Homo sapiens: one gene and its partner. The protein of the gene in region 2 interacts with the protein of the main gene of each other region in a biochemical or structural test. Each region holds a gene or a part of one and is shown on either strand. Other genes may lie near its edges. The genes, in order: SORT1 and SORL1.

Region 1 (10,770 bases), on a different chromosome or scaffold from region 2:
CGGGGTTTCACCATGTTGGTCAGGCTGGTCTCCAACTTCTGACCTCAGGTGATTCACCCGCCTCAGCCTCCCGAAGTGCTGGGATTACAGGTGTGAGCCACTGTGCCTGGGCTCCTTTGAGTTTTCTAAGAAAAAGCAAACAAGGAAGCAAATGAAGGAAAATTCATTTACTCAAACATCTACTGAGTGCCTACTATGTGAAAACTCTTTTTTTTGAGACAGAGTCTTGTTCTATCACCCAGGCTGGAGCGCAGTGGCACCATCTCGGCTCACTGCAACCTCTGCCTCCCGGGTTCAAGCGATTCTCCTGCCTCAGCCTCCTGAGTAGCTGGGACTACAGGTGCATGCCACCAGGTCTGGCTAATTTGTATTTTTAGTACAGACTGGGTTTCACCATATTGGCCAGGCTGTTCTCCAACTCCTGACCTCAAGTCATCCACTCACTTTGGTCTCCCAAAGTGCTAGGATTACACGCATGAGCCACTACACCCAGAGTGAAAACTTTTGTAAGCCTTTGGTAATGTATCAGTGAACTAAACAGACAAATATTGTGAAAAATACATTCCGGTAGGGCGAGACAAGCACTAGACATAGTAAATAAGTAAATTATGTAGTATGCTAGAAAATAAGTACTATGGAAAATACTTGCGCAGCTAAAGGTGGATTGATAGTGTGTGTGTGAGGAGGCGAGGGCAAACTGGAATTTAAAATAGGATAGTCAGGGAAGGTCTCATTCAAAAAGTAATACATGAGTACAGACATATCAGCCTTGCGGACATCTGGAGAAACAGAGGGAACTGTCGGTGCAAACTCTAATCTGTGCATGTGCATGTGTACCTGCTGTGTTAAGAACTGGCAGGTGGACAGTATGATGAGAGTAGGGCAGATGGAAAGAGAAGCGCTGGAGGTGAGTCAGGGAGGAAACCGGGAGCCATATCTCCAGGACTTTGTAGGCCACTGCCAGGACTTTACAAAATAAAAACAGCCCCTACCTCCTACCGAAAAATAAATATATAAATAAAATGACACTTTAAGAGTCTTTGTACTTGAGACTAATGTGTTTATTTGTATAACTGGGCCTAAGGAAAGGTGAGCTCTGTAGAGCCATTGAGTAGAACACAAGAAGAACCCTGGCTGGCTACTGCTATGCACCCTTACCAAGAAGAGCAGGAAGTGGGTCAAATTCAGGCTTATTCTCATAGGCCTACATCTCCCAATATAGAAGACTCACTTTATTACCTAAACAACATAGATTCAAAACATCTTTTTTTCTACTTGTTGTTGCTCTCCTCACTCCTAGTTCTATTTATCATAACTTATTTAAAATAGGGAGCCTGAATTTGCATGGGTTTGGTCTGTCCCTGCTGGACTGTCCTCCTGATCCCTCCTCCCCCGGCATCACCCAATGTCTCACCACCACCACCAGGCCAAACCCTCCTGTGACTCTGATACTTTTTTTTTTTTTGAGATGCAGTCTCACTCTGTTGCCCAGGCTGGAGTGCAGTGGCATGGTCTTGGCTCACTGCAAGCTCAGCCTCCCGGGTTCACGCCATTCTCCTGCCTCAGTCTCCTGAGTAGCTGGGACTACAGGTGTCCACCACCACGCCCAGCTAATTTTTTGTATTTTTAGTAGAGACGGGGTTTCGCCGTGTTAGCCAGGATGGTCTCGATCTCCTGACCTCATGATCCACCTGCCTCAGCCTCCCAAAGTGCTGGGATTACAGGTGTGAGCCACCGCGCCCAGCGACTCTGATACTTTGCATGTGTACTTCCTTCAGCTGAAAATGCCCTTCCCTCCCCATTCCTGCCTATCATACTTAAGGCTCAGTCTTAAATGTTTTTCAAGTGTGTTCACTGTATGGTTTTGAGTGCAAGGCTGTTCAGCCGTTTATTTGTAGGCTCATTTGGCAAGTATTACTGAACATCTACTATGTGCAAAAATTGTCATAAGCACCAGAGGAGCATCAGTGAACACAACTTTAAAAATCACTGCCATCCATAGGACTCAATTAGAAGCTTCCTCAACGAAGATATTCACATGGCCAACGAGCATATAAAAAGTTGTTCAACATCTTTAGTCATTAGAGAAATGCAAATCAAAGCTATAAACGAGATAGTATTTCACTCCCATTAGGAGTGCTGTTACAAAAATAGGAGAATATAATGTGTTTGCAATGAAGTAGAGAAATTGGAATCCTTTTGTATTGCATGTAAAATGGTACAACCATGTGGAAAACCCATTGGTATTTCCTCCAAAAGAGAAACATGGAATTATCATGTGATCCTGCTATTTCACTCCTACATATATCCCCAAAGGAACTGAAAGCATTGACTTAAACAGTTACATGTATAACAATGTTCATGGCAGCATTCAGTATTCATAAGAGCTGAAAATGGAAACAGCCTAAGTGTCCATCAATGGAGGAATAAAAAACAGGCTGGGCATGGTGGCTCACGCCTGGAATCCCAGCACTTTGGGAGGCCAAGGCAGGCAGATCACCTGAGGTCAGGAGCTCGAGACCAACCTGGCCAACATGGTGAAACCCCATCTCTACTAAAAATACAAAAATTAGCTGGGTGTGGTGGCACACACCTGTAAACCCAGCTACTCAGGAGGCTGAGGCAGGAGAATCCCTTGAACTTGGGAGACCAAGGTTGCAGTGAGCTGAGATCACGCCACCGCACTCCAGTCTGGGCAACAGAGCGATTCCATCTCAAAAAAAAAAAAAAAAAAGAAAGAAAAAGAAAAAAAAGGTGCTATATTCAAACAAAGGAATATATTCTAGTCTTAAAAAGCAATAAGTGAAATTCTAAAACATGCTGCAATGTGGCTGAACTTTGAAACAATATGCAAAATGAAAGAAGCCAGACATACAACAACCAATAGTGTATGATTCTGCTTACATGAGCTACCTAGAATAGGCAAATTCATTGAGACATAAAATAGAATGTTGGTTACCAGAGCTGGGTGACTGGGTGGGGAACGAGGAGTGCTTGTGCACCTGGTGCAATTTCTATTTGGGATGATGAAAAAGCTCTGGAAATAGGGGTGATGGTTGTGCAACATTGTGACTGTGCTTAATGCTACTGAATTGTACCCTATACAATGTTAAAAACTGCAAATTTTGTTAGACATATTGCCACAATAAAAAAAAAAAAGGAAACAAAAAAATGTACATGGGTAGGCTTGTTGGCTTGGCAAGCAACATTACTAGGGGACAGGTTCCCCGAAGCCTCAAATCCTACCACATGCAGCTGAAGGCACAGTACACCACTGCGATGCCGAGACTCACCTTCGGAGAGCACGCTTGTTATGTAGACGCCGCGGAGGGAGGTCACGTTGGTAAAGTCCGTCTCTCCGCCTGTGGTAGTGTAGAGATGTCGGTCCAAAGACTTGGAATAGACAATGCCTCGATCATCTGAGGTAAAGATTGTGCCAAACCCAGTGTCTGAAATAGGCAAACAAACAAAAATACTAAGTCTTGGGTGGAACCAAAGAGAAAAACAATAGTCTAACCACACACGATTACCTGCCTGACCAAACACAGTAGCCAATTGTGTCTCTTCATGATGAAGACTCAGACCTGAGAATTAATCAAGGTTTGATACTCAAGATCTTTATGCCCATCTTTAATTCTAGTACCCAGCTTAGTGCCTGGAATATGGCAGATGCTGAGTTTGTTGAATAAATTAATCAGATGCTACAGAAAAACTCTTCCCAGATATATTTTGGTGGGAGAGGCCCTATGTTTAGTTTACATATTTTTAAATCTTTACACTCTAGAACAATGCTTCTCAAACTATCTGTAGTGAAGGATCAATTTGTAAGATTTCCAATATGTCACAAACTGATGCTATTGTAAAACATAATAAAAACTAATCATTAGAAAATGAAAAGGTAAACAAAATATATGCCCCTAAGTTTTTTTTTTTTGAGATGGAGTCTCGCTCTGTTGCCCAGGCTGGAGTGCAGTGGCACGATCTCAGCTCACTGCAAGCTCCACCTCCCGGGTTCATGCCATTCTCCTGCCTCAGCCTCCTGAGTAGCTGGGACTATAGGTGCTCGCCACCACGGCCAGCTAATTTTTTGTATTTTTTGTAGTAGAGATGGGGTTTCACTGTGTTAGCCATGACGGTCTCGATCTCCTGACCTCGTGATCTGCCCGCCTCAGCCTCCCAAAGTGCCAGGATTACAGGTGTGAGCCACTGCGCCCAGCCATAAACCCCTAATTTTTTGTCATTAGATCCAACAGACATAAAATTGCTTTGTCAAAAGGCTAGAAGAGTTTCCAAACTCTTGCTCTCAATTTCTGTACTTATCTGGTAACAGATAGTTTGCAAATCAGTACCAGTCTGCTGACCATTCTTTGAGCAGCTCTGCTCTAGAACACCTGAACATACACACAAGCTACCAAAACAAGTGGCATTTTTAACAGGGGCTACAGATGATCTCTAGGACAGAAAAATCAGTAGGGCACTAATAAATTTCTAGGGGTAAGAGGAAAACTCGACATGTAAAAATAAAAGCTGCTCAAAGCTTACATCTCTATGCTTTTAAGGGTAAGCCACTAAAAAGCTCTTACCTCCAGGTTCATCTACATGCATGAATACCATGTCATCATTTGCTGCCAGAATAGAATAGAACTGTTCCTGTCCCACGGAGGGGAGCTGGGCCATGCTCCATGTGTCCCCTTGATCTGTTGAAACGTGGATCCTTCTTGTTGTATCCTAGAACAGATGTCAATATTTATCTTTCTAATTTTCTGCCAAGATGCCATGGGCAGGGACATGAACAAGAATGTTTTAAATAACTACTATTATCCATTTCTCTACTGGGTACGATTGCTATGAATGAAAGGTCATAGTACCAATTACCAAAGCAATTTCTAGCCCCTAGCAAAGTTCTAGGTAAAGGAACAATCCATTCTATTCTAAGTAAGGCTATCTTGGCTTTCTCTTTGAATTCTTCATTCTGATGCGGCCCTGTAAGATAGTATAGTCTTGGTCTCTGATAGTCCACCTCCTTCAGTAGAGCTAAGGATTTGATGAGAACATTAGGTTGGCTTTATAGCCATTTGCATACACTCAGGTAATTCTTAAAATGATGACTACTGCATAAAAGTTTGGTCCCTTTCATACAGTGCTTGCATAATTTAAAGAATTATATACTTAAGGGTCTAGAAAATAGAGATGAAACCCATGTTTGGGAGATCACAAGGGAAGTCAAGATGTAACACGCCTTCTCTCTAAGGAAGTCTCTCAGAATAGCCAGGATGAAGGGAACAGGCATGGGCTGGAAAGAGGCCAAGGAGAGTCGGAAATTACTATAAGGAAACTGATTAGGGAGTATTTGGCTGACGAAAAGAGTCTGTTAAGAAAGCAATTAAAACTTAACTCTCTGATAAATAGCTTAACATCGCTACTAGATACAGTTAGCCTGAGCATGAGAATTAATGTCGGTGTTTCCTTAGATTAAATACTCTTTAAAGTTCAGTGATAAGTACATTTAACTTATTCAACTTATACCAACATGTCTCATTACTTTGAATCTTATTCTCATTACTGTAGGTAGAAACCAGAGTTCAAAAGTACATCGCAAAATTTTAATTCTGTAGACAGCATTATACCATATATGCAGTATAGCATAGGAAGCTACCTCTGGAATTTGAGTCTGATTTCCAGCAGGATTCCACTACTGGTTGACCCTAGGTAAGTTACTCAATTTCCTCACCTATAAAACTGAGGTAATACTATTAGCTCACAGGGTTATTGGGAGGATATTACAAAATGGCTTTGGAGAGTTATCTGTATTTACTGCCTACTTCTTCATCTCTAGTTCTCACTGAAGTCACTCCAATCGGCCTTTTAACTTCCAATGAAGTGCTTTTGTCAAGGTCACCAACAACCTCCACGTCGCCAACTCCAGTGGATAATTCTCAGAATGCACCTAACTCAATGGTCCTGATTTCCCTCTTCCTCCCGGATCCCTCCCTCTCAGTCTTCTTTGCTGGATTCTTCTCTTTCCAACCTTTCAGTTGTGGGTGCTTCAGGGCTTGCTCAGTCCTCCCACCTCTTTGCTACCTACTTACTCCTCCAGAAGGTATCATCTGGTCACATGGCTTCAAATACCATAGCAATTAGGGAGATTCATATACCCAAATGCTCACTTGACATCTCCATTCAGATATCTAATAGGTGTCTCATATGCAGAACTGAATTCTTTTTTTATTTTTTTTGAGACAGAGTCTCACTCTGTTTCCCAGGCTGGAGTGCAGTGGCATGATCTTGGCTCACTGCAACCTCCGTCTCCACAGTCCAGTTGATTCTTGTGCATCAGCCTCCCGAGTAGCTGGGATTACAGGCCTGCGCCACCACGCTTGGCTAATTTTTTGTATCTTTTAGTAGAGACAGGGTTTCGCCATGTTGGCCAGGCTGCTCTCAAACTCCTGACCTCAAGTGATTTGCTCGTCTTAGCCTCCTAAAGGGCTGGGATTAAGGCGTGAGCCACCATGCTCGGCCCAAAACAGAATTCTTGATTTTTCTCCCACAACCTGCTCCTCCTGCAGTCTTTGCCATCCTAGAAAATGGCACCACCATTCAGGCGCTCAGGATACAGACTCTTAAAGGTACCCTTGATTCCACTCATTCTCTCACAACCCACATCAAATCCATCAGCAAGTCCTATTAGTAATATGTTTAAAAATGTATCCACAGTCTCACCACCTGCCCCCTTACCCACTGCCAAGAGCCTGGCCAAGCTACCACCTCCCCAGCTTGGACTCCTGAGAGAGCTCCCGGCGCTCCCGCTGCTTCTGCGCGTGCCCCTGTCAGGCTGTTCTGCGCACACCTATTCTTCAAAAGAGAAGCCAAATCTCAGCATTCCCCTGCTCACAACCCTCTCACAGCTCCCAACACAAGAAGAGTAAGGCCCACATCCTAATTGTGATCTACAAAGGCCACATAAGGTCTGGCCAGGCCCCCTCTGGCCCCACTTTGGACTATTATTCTCTGTGCTCCCCCCATACTGCCCTTCTCCCCTTTGCTTGGATTGATCGGGCATGCTCCAGTCTGAGGGTCTCTGCACTGGCTGTGCCTCATCCTACTCTCCTCCCAGATGGCCACATGGTCAAGTTCTTGTTTCACTTAGGTCTCAGAGAGCCCATCCTAAACAGTCTGTCTAAAAGAGCACTGACTCCTGACACTTTGTTTTCTTACTGTTTTAGATTTCTTCGCGGCTTTAATTATTACCTGATACACACACACTCACATTTATATTTATTTATGAGACAGGGTCTTGTGCTGTTACCCAGGCTGGAATGCAGTGGCATGATCACAGCTCACTGCAGCCTCAACCTCCCCAGGCTCAGATGATCCTCCCACCTCAGCCTCCCAAGTAGCTGAGACTACAGGCACATGCCACCATGCCTGGCTAATTTTCTTATTTTTTGTAGAGACAGGGTTTTGTCATGTTGCCCAGGCTGGTCTTGAATTCCTGGGCTCAAGGGATCCACCCGCCTCAGCCTCCCAAAGTCCTGAGATTACAAGTGTGAGCCACTACCCCCAGCCTTCATATTTATTTTTTGAGTATTTATTTTCCCCCTTAAACATAAGTTCTGAGAGCAGGAAATTCATCTGTTTTGTTCACTGCCATATTCCTGGGACTTAGAATAGTACCTAGCATATAGTAGGCACTCAATTAATGTTATCTAATTGTATTTTTATTCTTGGATAATGAGCAAGAGATTGCTTTCTACAGATGTCCATTGTCTGAGTAATGCCCAAACACTGGATCAAAATATCCTGGCCGGGCGCGGTGGCTCACGCCTATAATCCCAGCACTTTGGGAGGCTGAGGCGGGGGGATCACCTGAGCTCAGGAGTTCAAGACCAGCCCGGCCAACATGGCAAAACCCCATCTCTACTAAAAATACAAAAATTATCCGGGTGTGGTGGTGCACACCTATAGTCCCACTTACTTGGGAGGTTGAGGCAGGTGAATTGCTTTAATCTGGGAGGCGGAGGGTGCAGTGAGCCGAGATTGCGTCACTGCACTCCAGCCTAGGCAACAGAGAGAGACTTTGTTTCAAAAAAAAAAAAAATCCCAAAAAAGATAACAGAATTCACATGGTGACAGAAGGCCAAAGTGCAGAGTAGCCTATCAGTCAATCAGCCTTTGCAAAAAGAATCACCCCTAACACTCACAGTGGTACTAAATATAACAAAAAGACAAGAAACTCTGTCAATGCCAAGTAATAAAGAGAATCTATACGAGAGATATTTGCAGAAATATCAGACCCCAAAGGGGAGAGGGCAATACCTACCTTATCAGCCATCACAGAGGCAAAAAGGAAACGTCCCCCAAGACCAAATGAGTAGATTTTCACACCAATAGTTTTGAAGCTTTTTCCCAAGTCTGAAGTTCTCCATAATTCCAGAGCCCCAAGGTCAGCTTCTTAAACAAGACAAAATATTAATTAAAATTTCACTTACTGGTGAGCCTAGTTCAAAGCAGTTGTTTTAGAATCAATCTTAATTTTATAGCTAAAGCATTTTAAATACTATGCATGTTAATCAAGTGACAACATAAAATGTGATACAGCGGCCAGGCGCAGTGGCTCATGCCTGTAATCCCAGCACTTTGGGAGGCTGAGGTGGGCGGATCACGAGGTCAGGAGATAGAGACCAAACTGGCTAACACCATGAAACCCCATCTGTACTAAAAATACAAAAAAATTTAGCCAGGCGTGGTGGTGGGCGCCTGTAGTCCCAGCTACTCGGGAGGCTGAGGCAGGAGAATGGCGTGAACCCGGGATGCAGAGTTTTCAGTGGGCAGAGATCGCGCCACTGTGCTCCAGCCTGTATGACAGAGCAAGACTCCGTCTCATAAAAAAAAAAAAAAAAAGTGATACAGCATTAGATATAGGCAATTCATATTTGTGTTTTATTTTATACATTTCAGATTTTATGCTCAATGGAAAGGTAAGAGATTACTTAATTCTAATACAGTGTTTCATAAAAACATCAAAGCCACAGCAGACGGGTGCGGTGGCTCACGCCTGTAATCCCAGCACTTTGGGAGGCCGAGCCGGGTGGATCACGAGGTCAGGAGTTCAAGACCACCCTGGCTAACACGGTGAAACCCCATCTCTACTAAAAATACAAAAAATTAGCCGGGCGTGGTGACAGGCGTCTGTAGTCCCAGCTACACAGGAGGCTGAGGCAGGAGAATGGTGTAAACCCAGGAGGCGGAGCTTGCAGTGAGCGGAGATGGCGCCACTGCACTCCAGCCTGGGCGACAGAGCAAGACTCCGTCTCAAAAAAAAAAAAAAAAAAAAGCCACAGCATGCTGCTTTACTTTCTTCATGGCACAGTTTGGAATTATCTTATCCTATTTTAAATTGTCTTGAGTTTTCTTTTCTTTTCTTTTAAGGGCTGGGGGTCTTGCCACATTGCCCAAGCTGTCCTTGAACTTCTGGGCTCAAGCAATCCTGCTGTCTCAGCCTCCCAAGTAGCTGGGACTGCAGGCATGCAACCATCATGCCCAGCTGGAGTTTTGGTTTTCCTGAATTTACGTTCCATGAGGGCAGGCCTTGGGTGTTTTCTTCTCTCCATCCTTAGAACAGTGTTTAGCATATGAGCAGGTGCTCAAATATCTGTTGAATGAGTAAATGAAAGATTTTGCTTTCTGTTTTGAAGTTGTGTCAGAGTTTGGGAAGCCAGCTGCTTCTGCAAACACAAACACAACCCTTGCTTTCCTGTAGAAATAACCATGCATTTCAATTTGCTATTGTCTGTAGCATAATATTTGCTTTACATAAATACATTGCTAAGATTAAATATTGCCTCTACGTATAGCCTATATTTTTACTTGATCTGGGTAGTGTAGTAATTTGGTTTTACTTTCAAGATTTTAATAACCACTAACAGCTTTCTTTAGCTATTACAATTTCAGGAGAATGGAGGGACCTTTTATGTTTCTACCTTGCACAACCCAGAAAATTCTACCATGAATGGACAACAGGACATTATTTTCTGGGACTAAAATATACTTACTGCAGGAGCCATTTGCATAGGTTGTAAAGAAGATGGTGTTGTCTGATCCCCTACAATGAGGCAAAAACAGGGAAAAGAAATGGTTTAAGACTGCTGAAGGACTGTGTTGACCTTACTCACAAACTTCCTAGCAGGTCTAACAAGCTTCATTCACAGGCACTGACAAGCACCACTTCTCAGGCGCTGAGCCCTGGTCCTTCACAGCTCTGCCTGTCAAGCTCCCCACTGCCCGGCCCATGTGTTGTCTACAGTCCACCACTTCTTTACGTGAACTCTTTCAGGCAGTCATGCTGGTCTACTCACCCTCTCAACATTTGCCTCTGACATTTTTGATCATCACAACTGAGGGGTGGGTGGCGGAGGTGTTATTGGCATCTACCGGGTAGAGGCCAGGGATGTTGCTACACATTTTATGATGCACAGGACGGTCCTCCACAATAAAGAATTCTTTGATCCAAAATGTCATTAGTGCTGAGGTTGAGAAACTCTGTTTTAGAGCACTGTACCATCTGCACAGCCACTTGGCATGCATTTGCCTGTTTTTTATTTTACTTGCATAGTATATGCCTTACCTTTCCTACTATATAAATTAGCTTCTTCAGGGCAGGTACTATACTTTGCTGTTTCCCTTCAGAATCTAGTTCAATGCTTTGTATGAGTTAAATAATTTAGTTCTTCCATCTCAAATGGACAACTAGGTCGGAGGTTGAATTATTTA
Region 2 (10,770 bases):
CTCTTATTCCAAAACCCCCAATTCCAAGACCCCTAGCTGACACCTGAAACTGCAGATAGGACCAAACCTATACTGTGCATGAATTTCTTTTTCTTTCTTTACAATTTCAGAGATAGAAGGTTCGTTCTTACAGCAGATCTTAGCAAACTCGGTGTAAGATTTTTTTTCCTCCCTTATTAAGTCTAGAACTTTCACCCTTTCCCTAAAGGAAGCACTTTACAACCTCCCTTTGGCATATCCAAATTACTGGAATCACTACTCTTGAGGTGTAGGGTCATCATGAAGTAAAATAAGGGTTCCTTGCGTACAAGAACTGCAGTACTTTGACACCCTGATAACCCAGCCGGCTCCTAAAGGGACTAATGAGCCGGCAGCATCAACAGCATGAGACGCTGGACAAAGGGAGGATTCACATCCCAGGTGGGACAGGGAGGAGACAGTACAAGATTTCATCACACTATTCAGAACAGCAAGCAATTTAAATCTTATACATTGTTTATTTCTGGAATCTTCCATATATATTTTTGGACAGTGGTTGACCGCAGGTAGCTGAAATCACAGAAAGCAAAATGGCAAATAAGCAGGAGACTACTGTAGAAAGTCCCGAATGTGTTAGGAGGAGACAACAAAAATAATAAAGATGGACAGGAGTCACATTCTTTCTTAGAGGAGTCACCTGTTTTAAAATAAGGAGAGTTGAAGGAATCTTGCTTCTCAGCTCCAGTGACTGAAATATTCAGGCCCTTGCTTGATGGAGGACATCCACCCCTACTGATCTGACTTGCTAGCTAGCAGAGTGGATTTTTAGCATTTCTCCAAGTGCTAGATCCAACACACACCGTGGATCTGTAATACAATGTCCAAAAAAGCAAGTGTCCTATCAGTGTCCAAAAAAAGCAAGCAGGTTAGAGCAAACAAGTTCAAGGCCAAGAGGTGCGGAGTGCTCATAGACAGTGCTGACAGCCAGACACCACTGCAAAAGCTTTGATTTGACCCAAACTGGGCTGCAGAGAAAGACAAAAACGTCTTTCTCCAGCCCTGTGTTTGGAGGCAGTAGGTCTCCTGGAAGTATCCTGCTCACAACCAAAGGACAGCAAGAGAAAATCCCAAAGGCAAACAGAAAGGAGCAGAGAGGCGACAACTGGCCATGGCCAAAGGGACAGTCACAGCCGCCCATGCACAGGTCCAGGTCTGTGTTCTACTCACCAACACAGATCTCCCCCAGCCTTTTTTTTTTTTTTTTTCGGTGACAGGGTCTCACTCTGTCACCCAGGATGGAGTGCAGCAGCACGACCTTGGCTAACTGCAGCCTCAACCTCCCGAGCTCAGGTGATGCTCCCACCTCCGCCTCCTGAGGAGCTGAGACTACAGGCATGTGCCACTATGCCCTGCTAATACATATCTCCCTTTTAAACCAGCCTGTCATCTATCCAGACCTCACTCTGGGCCCCAAAATGACTCTGGCTAACTTAAATGAAGATGACTCTTTGAGGCATGAAAGGGAAACTACACCTAAGGTGAGGATTGCAGACCTGTCTGACTGGCACCAAGACACCACGTTTGCATGTGCTGAGACCACAAACTCTCTCCTCCCGCACTGCTCCTCAGTCACAGGTGTGACTGCATGTCAGCTGTGCCCAAGTTCTTGGGATGAAGTGGACAGTCAAGACTGGGAAGTAAGTTGTGACCGGGTAGCCACTGGCTTCATCTGCACACAGTGTTTCAGAAGCTCCTGTGTGCAAATCAAACAAGCACATGCATACAAGCACTTGTAAAAATGAAGACCCACTCTTCTGGACTAAGTGGTAACATGGAGAAATGCTAAAAATCCACTTGGAGAAATACTAAAAATCCACTCTGCTAGCTAGCAAGTCAGATCAGTAGGGGTGGATGTCCTCCATTAAACAAAGGTCTGAAGATTTCAGTCACTGGAGCTGAGAAGCAAGATTCCTTCAACTCTCCTGATTCTAAAACAGGTGCCTCCTCTAAGAAAGAATGTGACTTCTCCATTTAGCGGCAGAATTGCAACAAAAGGCCAGCCCCTAAACTAGTGAGGATATTTTGGGAAAGCTAATTCATATCTGAGATTTAATTCCCTAATCTATAAACCATGGATCATAATACCAGCCTTCCCTACCTCACAGGTCAGTGGTGAAGACATAACAAATAATATCGTCTTACATTTGTAAGACACTTTATAGTTTTCCCAGGGTGTTCTCATGCTATCTTCACAATCCCAAGAGGATAACAATGATATCTATAACAGTATTATTTCCCCTGTCAATTTTCTCCTAGTATAGGGTCAGCCAAGAACCATAAAACAATATCAACATTCCAGTTAAGAACAGAAAACTTAGCAGTTTGTCAATAAAGGAGAATCAGCAAACCCAGGATGCCATTTAATCCTGCTGAGATAAAGAGGGAAATTCTTAAAGGGACTATTCTTCCTGGTAATCCTCTGATCTTTCTCCTCTAGAATCAATAGTATGGCTGGGAGATAAGCAAAATCAAAGAGCAGTCATGAAATGATAAAGGCTTTCCACTGAATAGTCTCAGACTCCAGGACTAGCAGGTCAAAGCCTCATAGCAGTTCTTGAAGCCTCACCCAGTAGATCTCTAAGACAGCTACTGTCTGCACCCACTGCAATTCTTCCCCTCCCTTTTCATCCCTTATTCTTTCAACAAATATGAATTGAGCACCTACAAAGTGCTAGACACTGGTAAAACTATCGGGGAATAAAAAAGACCATCTCTTTCTTCATGGGGTTTAGGGTTTCATGGTGGGAAAAGTTAATTAAAACAACACCTAACTACACAGTGCCATTCCAGCAGAGGTAGGTACGGTCAATGAGCAATAGGTCATCTGGGCAACCAGAGAACAAGCAAGAGGCCCTGTCAGGAAGCAACAACTATCTGAGCACCCAGCACAGAGTCTCTTCCTGCAAGCATGCCAAACAGGGATTAAGCACATGTTAGGACTCTCCCAGCTGCAACAGAAGCCGCGCCACCAATCAGTCAGGGGCCAAGGGCAGGAGGAGGGTGTAATTACCCACCAAGCACCAACACTCTAGGCAGGCAAAAGCATGCTGTCTTCCAGCTGTTTGTGTATCATTAGAAAAGAAATTAAGATGTCATTAGGAAGAAATTAAATAATGTGCATGTTGTCGTGACAACAAAGATGCAGGCTGCCAGCTCCTACTCTGAGCAGAGATTGGCCACACGCAGCCCCTTTCTTGAGATCAACTCTACAGAGACAAAAGAAGAGACTCTGGCTTACCAGTGTTCTTCCCCTTGTAGAAAATCTTCATGTCCATGAGCCCCGTGAGCTGGTTTGCCAGAATCTCCATCTGGGACCCACTGTATTTGGAAGCTCGGAATATGCTGAGCTGTGACCAGTCATCCCAGTAGATTTCATTCTAAAAAGAAAACCTTTGCCCATTAGTCCAGCTCTTTCGTTCTTTATTCTGGTTCTCTCTAAGGGTAAGAGTTCCCCCAGGCAGGAGACAACTAACATTTATTGGCTGAATGACTAGCCTGATCAAGATTCTACTTAAATGCAAAGGACAGCAATTTTATCCAAACCTCACCATATAACCCCACAGAAGAAACTGCCCAAAAGAAACTATCTGATAAGCATTCAAGTTTATGACACAAACCCAACCCCCTCAGTTTGAAATCTGTTTCCCAGAGTTGGGAAGAGCCATGTTGCTCTCCAGAGTCGAAAAAGAACTGCAAGGCACTATAGGTGGTGCAGAGCTCACCGGAAGTCATCAGAGAATAAAGTGAGCAAAGCGCACAAAAAATGAAGACACCACCCTGAAATGAGGCTACTGACACTGAGGGGCAAACTGGGAATGTTCATGGGAAGAGCCTTCACTTTTAACCTTTTGAAATGTGAACAGCAGGGGAGCCTGGACCCTTGGCGCCTCTGCCTGGCATCCCTCCATAGGCTGAAAATAAGTTATCTCAAATTTGGAAAAAAGGCAACCTTTAAGAAGTTAAACAGCTTCTCTGCAAAGCCCAGGGATGCAGGCTCCTGATCTCATATGCTCCTCACCCGCTCTAGCAGACTGTCCGGCAGCAACAAATGGACTCACCTTAAAGACAGCAATGGCATAGGGGTGCGGGAGGTTGTCCAGAATGACAGAGCGCTGCTGGCCACTGAACGTGATCCGCTCTATGCACTCCAGGTAGGCATCCGTCCAGTAAATCCACTGGTCGTCCACAGAGATGCCATTGGGCCACTTCACATCCTCAGACACCAGGTGATAGGCAGCAGAACCATCCATATTGCTCCGATAAATCCCAGGCTTCAGGTCTCCCCAGTCTGTCCAGAACATCACCCTAGCGAAAATGGGGACAGAACACATACCTCATCAATACTAGAGAAATGGGAGCTCAAATACTACTCCAGAAAAGGTCAGAAACTCCTTTCGAATGATCCGGCTGGTTATTTCAGCATTATTATAACAATATGTAATGACAACACCTGAAACTACTTAAATTCCTTCACCTGGAAATTCCTTTACTAGAATTTATCTATAGATAAAATCAAATTATGCAAAGATAATATACAAAGAAATGTATATGTATGTATATTAAACTAAATGTTAATCAGCAGAGGAAGTGACACATTATGGTACATATAATAGAATACTGTGAAACCTAAAAATCTATATATGCTCACACAGAACTATTTTCAATACATATTAAGTTTGTTTAAAAAGGTACAGAATAGTAACTACACTACAATCCTATTTGGCGTGCATGTGTGTGTATATGTGTGTGTTTTAAAGATAATACTTGTACATAAGTAAAAGCAATCATGAAAGATACACAAGACATTATTAACAATGATTACCACTAGGAAGTGTGAGGGTAAAGGGTTAAGAATGAAAAGGAAGAATGCAAATTTTTTTCATAAAGTGCTGTTCTCTCTAAATATTGTCAACCAAGTACATACATTACTCTTAGAATTTTCCTTGAAAAAAATTGTGCCAATTCTCTATCATAAATGCTACGAGAGAGGAAAAGCCAGAATGTCAAATCCAGAATTTCCCTCTTAATTATGTTTCCTTCAGTTAATGAGTTAATAAAAAGCACCTTTGCCTTCCCCAAGTGCACACTGATTGTACGTAAGAAAACCTACACATGCTGGGAAGGCAGGGGAAAGATGGAATGAATTAAATGTTTGTACCATGCATGAAACTCAAGAGAAAGTTCTCACAATATCCAAGCAGGCCTGTCTATGTCTACAGAAGCTCTCTTTTAACATCAACTTTTCTAGAGAAACAACCCACAGATGCAAGACATCTGGATGCCTAAAGAGACTCTGACACTGGCTAACAAAAAGCGAACGGAGTTACCTGACCACGATGACTAAGCTGTGGTCTCAAACTTCTCAGTTAATAGACCATTTCAACCACCATCATGAGAAACAGAGTTTTTGTCCCGCAGTCTGTGTTTCCATGAGAATCTATTAGTGTAGCATTGGACGCAAGACTGATTTCCTTTTGGGGCAACACTTACCCCTCTTGGGGCACGAGGACCAGAGCCCTGGGACGATCAAGCACAGAGGAATTGACGATTGTGAGTCGGAAGTCGCCATCTGGATTAGCTACCTGACAAAAACAGGGGGAAAAGAGGCTGAGATGGATCGGAGCTCCTTAAAGACCCCCATTGCCAAAGATGGCTACTCAGCTTCTGCTACAGACATGCCCCCTCCATGCCTGCCTATTTCCCTGACCTGACCCATCTGCGAAACCTGCCCCAACTTCTAGTCACAATGCGCTGTTCCTTCCTCTGACTCATGGGACAATTTTCAAGTGGTCTGAAAGAGGAGCTAGAACCATGTAAGCCCCAGTTTCCAGGGCATGATGATCTGGACAAAGCAGTATCAATAAGTAAATTACTCAAATAAGTAAATAAGCAAATGAGCATTTACTTATTTCACCATCCCGTGTCACTCCACGTTCCAAGGCAATCGATGACTCCACACTCCCATAAAACAAATTCTCAATGTCACAGCCTTGCAATGAAGAGTCCACAGGTGGGACTCATATTCTTGCTCCTTCCCGTCAGCCAGGCTGGTCATCTCTTGCTTCTCCAAGCCTGATGCGGACTCACTGCTGTCTGCTCTTGCCACATCCCATCCTGGGCCTACCTGCCCCACTGCTTAATCTAATCAAGGCATAACTCTCCTTCAAACCTCACTGCCAGGCCTGCCTACTTTCCTAACTCTTCTGACCCACCTGGACCAATAAGCATCAGTAGCTCTGCACCTTGGCTCATCTGACACCATTTTGCACCAACAGTATTTGAGTTGTGCAGTGGTCGCCCCACAGCCTGTGAAAAGGTGGGTGCTTGTGCATCACCTGCATTCTTTTAGCCCCTAGCCAAGTGCTGACCACACGCAATTAAAGAAAGGAGAGAAAGAGCAATAACATAACCACCGAGGCAGCATTCAGTAGATGCCAGTTCACTTCTATCAGCATCCCCAGGAGGTGGACAAAAGATCATCCTCTTCTCAGCCAGGGCTCAGCTAAGACATCAACCTCAAGTTGCCTGCTCTGTCTGCCTATTCTAATGTTGCCCCACTCTCCAAAAGCGCAATCACACTGCACTGCTTCAGAGTCTTTGCAGCATGTACCACCAACAGAACTGATTTATTATTTTGCTTCCTCCACTAAAATCTAAGCTCTACTGGAACAAGAACGTGTGTGTCCTGCCCACTGCTTTATCATCAGAACCTAAACCACATGTATCATGCAGAGAACCCCTGTCAAATGGTTGTGCGAATATATGAATCTCCATCTAACGCATGAAGCAACTGAAGTTTAGAAAGCATAAGCACCTTGCCCCATGTCGCTGAGCTAGTGGAGTCAAGCCTACATCTGGGTCTATCTCTCGAGTCTGTGTCTTTCGTCTTGCAACTCCTCTTAGCCCTCTGCATCTCCCTGCTTCTACTGCACTTCCCACTTCACCCACATGCCGTCTCTCCATGCAGAGTCAGTATAAAGAGGTGCTGAGGCAGTGAGCTGAGCACACTACATTCCCCCAGACAAAGATTTGGCAGTTTAGAGGTCACTCATCATCCTTGCCTTGGGTATATAAGGTGGGACAGGTTACTAGGTAGCTAAGTTGCAGAGAAATGGGGATTAATAACAGTGGCAATGATGATGATGATGATGATATTGTTGCTATCACTCTAATCGAATAAAATAATACTAGACGATTATTGTTATAGCATTATAATAATACCATGATATTAGGCTGATGCAAAAGTGATTGTAGTTTTTGCCATCATGTTTAATAAAAGTAGTAAAATAAAACAAAAATAATATATAAATAAAATAAGTAAGTACATATATAAATAAAATAAAAATATTACCATTTATTGTTATTAGCTAAGCTTCTGCTAGCCAAAAGATCAACTCACAGGTACTTACCCCCTTTTCTCTCCTCTCCAGAGGCTCAGCTGGTCCATTCTCTGGAAACTCGCAGTAAATTTCCTGAGTAATCTGACACACTGGCCCTTGCCTCTGTGTCAAATGTGGCTCAAAGCCCAGGTGCCCCGCCTGCTCCCTTAATTAAGAACAGCACGAAAATACACATACCTCAATCTTTTTGAAGCCTGCATCTACCCAGTAAAGCAGCTGGCTGAGGGGTTCAAAAGCCAAAGCTTCTACTGTCTCCAGGCCAGAATTGATGATCACCTCTTGCCCTGTGCTTCCATTCAAACAGAGGCGCTTAAGAGAGAAAAGTAATAATAAATGCTAGGAACTGTTCAAACGACCCCCTGCCAAGTCAGTCCCATGAAGGGTAACCCTTTATTCAACTGGCAGGACTGGCAAGGGATGAGATGTTTTACGTTAGTAAACTTTCCAGACACATGAAGCCAGGTTTTCATGAAAGCATTTCTAAAATATACTACATTTTTGTTTTTTAAAGCAGAATAAAGAGAATTTAATCATATATATTACTCTGCATTATCATTATGAACACTGGTTACTAAATTATGCTGTATGGCAATAATAAAGTCAGAGATTACTGAGATTGTATGAGTCTGTTTGCTTTTAAAATAAGTGAAACCAGACTGCTGTTACATTTCAGTTCTTGTGTCTGCTTTTATACTCTTTCTTCCCTGTGAGGCTCTTAGCCATCAAGTGCTATTGTTGGACAGCTCCATTCAGCATCACCGCCATCCCCCACCCCAAGCCCCTCAAATACCCAGGCACTGTGAAATTTCTGTTGGGTTGGAATCTAGATAAAAATTTGTTGGAATTGCTTTTCTAAAAGGATTAAGTAGACAATGAATAAAGATCAAAGAGCTCTCCTTTAAATGCATGGGTGTGAGCGTATGGCTATCCACCTGGCCTGTCCAGGGCTCTTTAATGCTTACTTCCTGGTTCTTACCTGTGTTCAGAACAGCTGAAGTGGATAATTATGTGAGCTATGGGTAAGTCAAGTGTTACTGTATCATGGCTTGGGAAGAAAGATGCTCAAGAGGCAGTTGGCACAATAGGGGGGCAACTAATCATCCTACATTACTAGTCCCAACACCTTCCCAGCAGGAAAAGCAAGACCTCACTTTCAAGCAGGTCTGTGGATTTAGGGCTTTCTTTATCCTTCCTATATGAACAGATGAAGACAGAGAAAGAAAAATACTAACACAGAAGACTGGAAACTTTCACCTGTCAGCCCTGAGATGAGTAACACTTACAAACTTCTAACTGCCCATTTCCATAGGCCATTCTGCATGCAGCTTATCAGGACAGGGCAGTCACGATGCACAGCTCCCACAGTCAGACCAAGCGCTGACTCACCTGGATGACGTCCAAGGCCAGGTCGGACCAATACAAACAGTTGTGCTCATAGTCAAAGTCCAGGGCCACTGCTGCCCGTAGCCCGGTGAGAGGCAACTGCTCGGTGGCTCCCGAGGCCAGGTCATAGCGGTAGATGGATTTCCTCACAGCATACAGAATGAACTCGTTCTCTTCTGCCAGACACACAAGACACGTGGGAGGTTGGACCCAGGGGATGCTGAAGAGGTCCTAGCACATCTGACCTATTTGTTTCTCATACACAAACCTCAAATTCATTGGCATGTGGTGTGGACCAAGTGAAGAGCACAGAAATCAAGACTCAGGAGGTGTGTAATGGAATCACATTTCTGCCTCAGGCAAGTTACTTAAACTCCAGTGAATCTGTTTCTTCATCTGCAAGTGTTTTACTTGTTATGTTTTTCTTTATTCTAAATCTCCCAATATGCATGCTTCAACAACCATACTTCTGGGCTAAGCCTGCCAGTCTTCAAGTCACACTTGCCAACCTAATTACACCAATCGCCCTGTTCTCCCTCCTCACGTGACTGTATCACCACAGCATCATCATCTTGTTGACGAGAGACCATTAGTCACTGAAGCTTTGTAACTAAGCTCTCTAATCAATTTGCTCACTTATTCATATTGTTCACAACACCATATGGCAATTCTATGAACCTCTTAGATCTCCAAAATAATACTAATAATGCATTTGTTCTTGGCTATTTACAAAATGTTCCACAACATAATCACCACAAAAATTCTGTTTCTACTCAACAAATATAAATTGTGTACATATTGTGTATAATGTGCTTACTACGTATCGGGTATTGTTTAAGACCCACAACAACTGCCTGATGGTAGAACTCTTGTTAACCAAATTTTACAAATGAGAAAACTGAGACCAGAGAGGTTAAGTAACTCACCCAAGGTCACACAACTAGCAAGTGGCAGAACCAAGATTGGAACCCAGGCACTCTGGATCCAGAGTCTATGCTTTAACCACTACACTGTGCTGCCTGTTATGATACAGACGCTACCGTGGATGATTTTTAAGATGTAGAAATGAAGGTCCTGAGTGCTGAAGATACTTACCTAATGTCAGACAACTGGAAATAGGAAGACCCAGTACACTGTCTTGTCCACTTAGGGAACGGCTTGGGAAACATCCAGATTCTTCCCCAGGAGTGGACACAAGCAGCACACCAGCATCTGTGTCTAAAGTGTGCATCTTGACAGTGTGTTGCATATGGGACCAAGATGCAAATCGGAATTCTTTTGCTGCATGCCTGGGTTAGCCATTCCTGCCCACTTCCTGATTCCATACACTCAGTGACTTAACATGTACCACTCACCTTCTTTATAAAAGCTGTAATATAGATAATGCATCAAAAAATAAATCTACCTACAATTTTTAATAAGGTAAGTTTTCCTTCTTTTCCTTTGGTTCCAGGTCACTTTAGAAGTATCTATGTTACCATCACATGGTAACCTACCTCCCCTTTTGGTTGTCAAGGAAACCTTCCCGCTGTCATTCCCAGGGAGGGGGCCAGCTAAGGTATAGGGACATGAAAGCTACATTTGCAGCAGCAAGGCTTTTGCCCCACATCTCTCTCCAGCATCTATAAACCTCATTCTGTCACTCTGGGCTTTTTTTTCCTCTAAGAAACTAATACCCATAAAGTAGAACCTGAATCCAGAAATACGTGTTTTAGGATTATGTTCAGAGCAGCATGCGGCATTCCAGCGCGCAATGCTTAACCTGGAAAAGGAATGGAATTCTTGGCTGGTCCTGGCCAAGGAATGTGTGTTTTCATAGTAATTGTAAAGGAAGAAAAATTCTTGCATTTAAAAAATCCTTCCAGATGCCCAGATTACCTCATCTTTGCAAAGATATTACGGCCCCCATTAGTCCTGTGAAAGCATCTTTTTCTTTCCTGGTATATCC

What was found.
Region 1: the proteins of SORL1 (region 2) and SORT1 form a complex in vitro, tested with the Homo sapiens proteins (one study listed by BioGRID).

What each region holds. Positions count from the first base shown.
Region 1 is NC_000001.11:109,337,431-109,348,200, forward strand, and holds part of SORT1 (sortilin isoform 1 preproprotein), read right to left. Parts: intron 10,103-10,770; coding exon 10,053-10,102; intron 8,452-10,052; coding exon 8,321-8,451; intron 4,729-8,320; coding exon 4,584-4,728; intron 3,450-4,583; coding exon 3,294-3,449; intron 1-3,293.
Region 2 is NC_000011.10:121,552,165-121,562,934, reverse strand, and holds part of SORL1 (sortilin-related receptor preproprotein), read right to left. Parts: intron 8,999-10,770; coding exon 8,826-8,998; intron 7,749-8,825; coding exon 7,617-7,748; intron 5,622-7,616; coding exon 5,530-5,621; intron 4,345-5,529; coding exon 4,098-4,344; intron 3,417-4,097; coding exon 3,278-3,416; intron 1-3,277. UniProt on the Homo sapiens protein: Sorting receptor that directs several proteins to their correct location within the cell. Along with AP-1 complex, involved Golgi apparatus - endosome sorting.